2 linked regions of the Homo sapiens genome follow. The protein of the gene in region 1 purifies or fractionates together with the protein of each later gene. This does not show direct contact. Each region holds a gene or a part of one and is shown on either strand. Other genes may lie near its edges.

The links. Proteins that work in one complex are often made in the same cells at the same time.
Region 2: the proteins of MTG2 (region 1) and ATPAF1 purify together in Homo sapiens (affinity purification with mass spectrometry; one large-scale study listed by BioGRID and IntAct). This does not show direct contact.

Annotation. Positions count from the first base shown.
Region 1 is NC_000020.11:62,181,759-62,185,827, forward strand, and holds the start of MTG2 (mitochondrial ribosome-associated GTPase 2), read left to right. Parts: upstream 1-1,269; 5' UTR 1,270-1,299; intron 1,300-4,069. UniProt on the Homo sapiens protein: Plays a role in the regulation of the mitochondrial ribosome assembly and of translational activity. Displays GTPase activity. Involved in the ribosome maturation process.
Region 2 is NC_000001.11:46,658,365-46,661,864, forward strand, and holds part of ATPAF1 (ATP synthase mitochondrial F1 complex assembly factor 1), read right to left. Parts: intron 374-3,500; coding exon 323-373; intron 1-322. UniProt on the Homo sapiens protein: Has a complex stabilizing activity in the assembly of the mitochondrial F1-F0 complex.

The DNA.
Region 1 (4,069 bases):
ATTCTATCTTCTGTCATATGAATGTTGAGCAAAGCTTAGGCCAACATGAATTGTTTGTGAAGTGTGGTTGATGGTGCTTTGTTTTTTTCTGACTACTTCTATGGAAGGCCAGTGAAGAAGCAAAGGAAGACATGAAAATTGACGCTCATTCTTCTTCCTATTGTTCCCTGACATCCAGCAAATTGTGAATTTGAAAAATGATGGCCAGTTTTCAGAAGTGCTGACAAATTCATATTGGTATGCAAAAGCTCATCACCCATTAAGGTTTGTTGTTGAATCAACAGTACTCAGCATATTAAAACAGTACATCAGAACTCATGCCAACAGTCTTTATGATGGGATTAAGGTGGACAAGATCTCCTAAGATCTGTGAATGGGATTAAGGTGGACAAGATCTCCTAAGATCTGAAAAGAAACCTTAATACGCTCATATGGTTGGAGTGTTAAGTGAACCTCTGATTTTGTCAGGGTTTTTCTACGTGTAGGCGTGAATAGGGGGCACCCCTTCAAAACTGTACAAAGAAGACGACTGTTTTCCATTTCCATTTAAACATTTTTAGCCACTTCATTTCTATTTATTGAACAGGTCAAATTTGTCTTGTTATTTGTGAGTACAGTACATTTAAAAAACATCCTTATCGGTTATTTTTTTTTCAGTCGGAGTTTGACGTATAAATTGTTTATGCTTTTGGTGTAATCTCTTAATAAACTGGTTCTTCAAAAATCATCCTATAAAGTGAGTTTTCATGAAGTTAACGGGATTTTGGTGTGATGTGTTTTGCAAATACTTATTACCGAGACCAGGTAGATCGTCACCTCGGCTCCCGGGCAGAGTTCGCGTGCGTCCGCACCGGATTCCCCGCGGCGGCAAGGCGAAGCCAGGGTAAGGGCGGTGGGGACGGCGCCCCGGGGCTGCCCTGCGGTCCCCACTGCCTGCTCTGCGTTGCCCCGTAGCCTCCTCGGGCAACGGCGGTGTCCTCGTCAGACCCGGGAGGTTCCGCAAACGCCGGAGGGGTCAGAGAAGCTGGGGGACCTTGGGCACCGGGTGGAACGGGCGGGGCGGCTGTCCTTGTGCTCGGGCAGCGAGGGCGCCGGCGAGAAGCGCGGCTGCAGCTGAGCGCTCCGCATCCCTCCTGCCGTTGCTCCTGCTTCCGCTACCAGGGACAAGGTCGCCTCTCGGTCCGTCGGCGTGTTTTCTGCACCTGCGCACTGGGCAAGCCTTGGGCTTCCGGAGCCAAAAGGCCCCGGAAGTGGTCGGCCGCTTGCGACGCTCCGGAAGTGACGTGCTTTCCCGAGCCGGTGAGTGCGGGAGCGGGGAGCGGGGAGCGTGGGCCTGGGGGGTGGTCGCGGCCCGGGCGCAAGGAGGGGCCTCGGCTTGGGCCGCGGGGTACCGGGGCGCTGGGAGCGGGAGAGGCCCCGGCCTAGGAGCTGAGAGGCCTGGAGGGCTGCCGGGCTGCGAACCCCGGCGGGACCGAGCGCTGCGGCCCTGGAGTAGCGAGCGCTCGGGCGGTGGGGAGCGGCGCCTTGCTCCCCGGTCCTGCCCCACTCTCTCCGCAGAACCGCGTTTTGGGGTCAGAAGTCTTGTCAGCCACCCCGGTGGTGCTCTGTCACGGGATGGGTGCCGTGTGTGAGTTCCGAGTCAAGTTGTTAGGAATTTGCCTTGATCCAGCGCTCTAAGTATTAAACATTTTAAAGTGATTATTGGCAGTATACAGTTGCACAAAACAACATAAATATATACACATTTGGATGATAAAACAACAATAAAGTTTTGTATTGTAAACGCGCCTCAGGGAGACGCATTTCCAGATAATTCACTGTCCGTGGCTGGCTTCTGCCCAGTGAGAGCGGGTTACCCGTTCTATTCCCATTTACGTTCTCGTAGCTGTGGATACCGAGGAACGGCGTTCACACAGACCTGTAGGTGGGAATTAGAGGGGTTGTTGGGCAGTGTCACTAGAGAAATACCTTTCTTTTGTAAAGGGGAGGACCCATTATAAAAGGGGGACGGGAAAGGAGAATTCAAATTGTTTTAAACGCAGGTTCGTCCTCAGGCAGTTCTGTTTTAGCAGAGAGAACGTAGCGAAACTTGGGCAGAAAATGGATTCCTTTGAAATTATCCTGGCCTTAGTCCCTTGGGAAGTCTGTGTAGGCGAACCTCAGTGAGAAGATTCCTGCCGTAAAATGCAGGTGTCAGCAGCATGCCAGGGAGGCCAGAGGATACTATGTGACTTTGGGCAAGTGACTGAACCTCTGTGAGTCTCAGCCTCCACTGCTTTAGATGGGCATAAAAAATGTAAAGTCAAGAATCAGGTTTCCGCTGGGCGCGGTGGCTCACGCCTGTAATCCCAGAACTTTGGGAGGCCAAGGCGGGCAGATCACGAGGTCAGGAGTTAAAGACCAGCCTGGCCAACATGGTGAAACCCCATCTCTACTAAAAATACAAAAAAGTAGCCGGGCGTGGTGGCAGGCGCCTGTAATCCCAGCTACTGGGGAGGCTGAGGCAGGAGAATCGCTTGAACCTGGGAGGTGGAGGTTGCAGTGAGCCGAGACCGCACCACTCTGCTCCAGCCTAGGCAACAGAGCGAGACTCTGTCTCAAAAACATACCCAAAAAAAAAAAATCAGGTTTCATGCTCACAGGAGGATTTGAGGAGGGTTTATAAAGGGACCGTTTGCAAAGGCAGAGTGCAGGTTAATGACAGTTGGTCCTTTAGCCTGGAACTGGTGGCAGTGGAGTTTCTACTCCTGGACTCCAAAGGATCAGGGAAGGCAGCAGTGATCGGGACAGGGAGAAGAGTCACTGGGGAGGGCTTCTTGGACTGGAGGTGTGAGCCTCAGTCTGAGTGGGCAGGGAGGTCCATGTCCCGGCCTCCTGCTCCTGCCTCCAGTCTCTGGTAGAGGGCCAGGTCCCAGTAGGTTTTCCTATGGGGCAAGCTCAGGCTCCTGACACACAGCACAGGGCAGGGTGGAAAGCTGGTCTGGAAAAGCAAATGGAAGATAGCTCGGCATGCAGTATTACCCCTCGCAGGGTATTATCGTTAGGAATACATTTAAAAGTGGATATATTGGTTGGGTGTGGTGGCTCGCGCCTGTAATCCCAGCACTTTGGGGGGCCGAGGCAGGTGGATTTCCTGAAGTCGGGAGTTCAAGACCAGCCTGGCCAACACGGTGAAACCCCGTCTCTATTAAAAATACAAAAATGAGCTGGGTGTGGTGGTGGGTGCATGTAATCCCAGGTACTCGGGAGGCTGAGGCGAGTGGATCACTTGAACCCATGAGGCGGAGGTTACAGTGAGCCAAGATCCCACCATTGCTCTCCAACCTGGGCTACAAGAGTGAAACTCTGCCTCAAATAAAAAAGAAAAAAAATGGCCAGGGCGTGGTGGCTGATGCTTGTAATCCCAGCAATTTGGGAGGCTGAGGTGGGCGGATCACGAGATCAGGAGTTCAAGACCAGCCTGGCCAACATGGTGAAACCCTGTCTCTACTAAAAATACAAAAATTAGCTGGGCGTGGTGGCATGCAGCTGTAATCCCAGCTACTCGGGAGGTTGAGGCAGGAGAATCCCTTGAACCCGGGAGGCAGAGGTTGCAGTGAGCTGAGATCATGCCACTGCACTCCAGCCTGGGCGACAGAGCGAGACTGTCTCCAAAAAAAATAAAAATAAAAAATAAAAAATAAAATATATACACATACATATATATACATGTATATGTATGTACACAAATTAGCTGAGCGTGGTGATGGGTGCCTGTAATCCCAGCTTCTTGGAACGCTGAAGCACAAGAATTGCTTGAACCCAGGAGGCGAAGGTTGCAGTGAGGTGAGATCATGCTATTGCACTCCAGCCTGGGAGTGAGACAGAGTGAGACTCTTGTCTCAAAAAAAAACCTTTCTGTGATGAGGGCAGTGTTCTAATATGTGCTGTCCCATATGTACCCACTCGTGACATGTGGCTGTGTGCACTTAGATGTTACCTCAGGGACTGAGTTTTTACATTTCAGTTAATTTTAGCCAAATGGCCACATTTGGCCAGTGGGGACTGTGCTGGACAGGTCAAGGACAGC
Region 2 (3,500 bases), on another chromosome or scaffold:
AGGTTTTCATAGTTCTGTTCCTGAGGAGTCTCTCTTAGGTTGCCATGTACTTCCCAAAGGCTTCACCCTTACCAATGAGTCCTGCGGCACTTTGCAGCTGGTAAGAGGAGAAAGTTTGGTTGTTATTTTTAATTAAACTGCTATGCTAGGGGTCATGGTCAAGGACACAAAGTTCATAGAAATATTTCTCACTTCTACAGCTGGAAAATCACCTTACACAAAATCACTGAGCCACAGTACTTATGTTCAAATTTGCAGCCTCTTGTTCTAGATGTCCCATATGACTTCAAGCTTTTTTTCCTATATTTAATTAGAAACCTACCTTGTCCTTAGTGAATCCTCTGTTCACAGACTGTTTCCCCAAGGCATCTGTCTGAAATATATAAGACAAGATATTAATCTACACTTTACTCATAAGAAAAAAGGTAACTAAGCTAGGTGAAGTACCCAATCTCATTAAATAATTTTGCATGTGAGAACTCACTTCTCTCCACTTTTTATAATAATTGTTCTAAAATTTTAACACTATTTTAAAAATTATTGTTGGCTGGGCGCAGTGGCTCACACCTGTAATCCCAGCACTTTGGGAAGCCGAGGCGAGAGAATCATAAGGTCAGGAGTTCGAGACCAGCCTGGCCAACATGGTGAAACCCCGTCTCTACTAAAAATACAAAAAATTAGCTGGGCATAGTGGCGGGTGCCTGTGATCCCAGATACTTGGGAGGCTGAGGCAGGAGAACCGCTTGAACCCAGGAGGCGGAGGATGCAGTGAGCCGAGATCACGCCACTGCACTCTAGCCCGGGCAACAGAGTGAGACTCTGTCTCATAAAATAAAATAAATAAATAAAAAGAAATAAAAATAAAAATTATTGTTTATAAGAAAACAACTTTCTTCTAAGATTCTGAGATTCAGAGATAAGATTTCTCTCTCAGTAAACTATCATCTACTAGTACTGAGAGTCCATTCTCCACCTGCCACTGTGGATATGAGGGATTTCTTCCCAGAATTAGGCCTGCTTGGGATTACTGTGCTCTGTCCTGACCTATTCCACACTGAGCCATGGGAGAGGTAAGAAATGGAAAGATGTGTTATCCAAGGATACTGCTTATCTCTGACAACACTTTGATGGTAGGCATCCTCAGCAGACTAGAGTCATTTTGAGTGTTCAATCTTAATGTTTCCTCTATCAAATTAGACACCCTTAAAAAAAGGCCACCAACAACTGAAAGTGATTATTTTGTCTCGTAGCCATTATCTCTCATAAAGGTCATAGCTAGTAAATCCTGTTTTGAGTAGTTTCTGGTAGTAGGGATGGGTTGTTCTGAGTCTTCCACTCAAGGCTGTGCTTCTCAGAAGTACATTCGACACCTGGGATTCTGAGGCTGAAAAACACTTTCTGCATAAAACCTTGCCTTTAGTCACTTTGTGCTTTAATTAATCCACACTTTTCATAAATGATGGTCATAGAACCTGTACCCACAAATTAGAGAAAAGCCTGTTGAACACCCTTTAGTCTTTTTGGTCACGCACCTATACACTGACAACATCCCAGTGTAGCCGTTCCTTCATATGTAAACCATCTAAAAAGGAGTTAATTTCATTTTCTTTCTTTCTTTTTTTTTTTTTTTGAGACAGGGTCTAGCTCTGTTGCCTAGGCTGGAGTGCAGTGGCACAATGTCGGCTCACTGCAACCTCTGCCTCCCAGGTTCAAGTGATTCTCCCACCTCAGTCTCCCGAGTAGCTGGGTCTACAGGCTTGTGCCACCATGCCTGGCTAATTTTTTGTATTTTTAGTAGAGATGGGGTTTCACCATGTTGGCCAGGCTGGTCTTGACTTCTGGCCTCAAGTGATCTGCCCGCTTCGGCCTCCCAAAGTGTTGGGATTACAGGCATGAGCCACTGTGCCTGATGAGAATTTCATTTTCATACCACTCATTCTCAGGTGTACCATGAAAACGAAACAAAAACAAAACAAAACCTCCACTTGCACAGCTGCTTTCACCTTTCAGTCATGAAGCCTCATGTATCGGTTTTTACACAATGTCTCTCCAATCTATTATTTGTATCCATTTTCACTTATAGAAATAAAAAATTTAAGCCCTAAGTATAAGCGTATTGCATTTTATCAAATCTAAGACATCATATCTTAAGATGCACCATTATTTTATGCATCAGAAAATGATGCCAATTAAATAGCACAATATTTTCCTGTCATATCAATTATAAGACAATTTTAGTGATGTTAAAATGAGAAAAATAAGAGTGAGCTTTAGATTTGATGAAATAAGGTAATTAAAGCAGTTGAAACTACATGTCAAAAATCAGAAGCATTTAATAAGAACTTTAAATGGGTATTTTACTTCCCTACTATGGATGCTTTGGAAATCTGTGCAGATAATTTTATGGTTATCATAATAGTTTATTGGATATTGATATCTACATTATGGGAGGGGTGTCAAATGGGTGAGTTCTACATAATAAAAAAAATTTCCCTCATCCTGTACAACTTTTCAATGTCTAGCTAGACATTCTTGCAGCTGAAAATACCTATAATATTTCAATATTTATAATTACTTGGGCCTAGAACCTTTTTTTTTTAAACACTGCTTTAATACTAAAATTTCCAGAAATGCAACTACTATATAACTTGAAAGATTCCACATTGTGGAATCATAGGTCACTGATAACAACACTGCTCATGGTTTTGGAGGTTTTTTTTTTTTTGGAGACAGAGTCTCACTCTGTCGCCCACGCTGGAGTGCAGTGGCACAATCTCCGCTCACTGCAACCTCCGCCTCCCGGGTTCAAGCAATTCTCCTGCCTCAGCCTCCTGAGTAGCTGGGATTACAGGCATGCGCCACCATGCCTGGCTAATTTTTCTTTTGCATTTTAGTAGAGACGGGGTTTCACCGTGTTGCCCAGGCTGGTCTCGAACTCCTGACCTCAAGTGATCTGCCACCTTGGCCTCCCAAAGTACTAGGATTACATGTGTGAGCCACTGCACCCGGTGGTTTTAGAGTTTTTATAATTATCAACATAACACCCATTTGCCAGTCAGTATTTGCTGCTTACATGTTCAAGGTTATTTCAGAAATGGGTGGAAGCACCTCATGACTACATTAGGTCTCACAGTGTAGTCGTGCCCTAATATTTACATGCTAAAATATGTATTTTGTTAAAAAATACTTTTCTTTATATTATGGTTAGGGCATTATATTGATTTTCCCACCTGAGGTTATACATACAGGTAGGTTATATTTTTACATACCTATTGTTTTATTTCAGGGTAGAAAAGGGAGAATTTTTAAAAAATGTATTATAAAAGGGGGATGTTGAGTCCCATGTGGTGGGGAACCAATAACTCAAAGTAGTAAAGACAAGACTGTGGGAATGGAAAATATGTGTTAGCCGTTAGCCTTCCTCTATCTAGCTAGATACAGAAGATAGCAAGTGAATATTTACCTAAGAGCTGCCACAATTTAAATTAAATCTTTACATA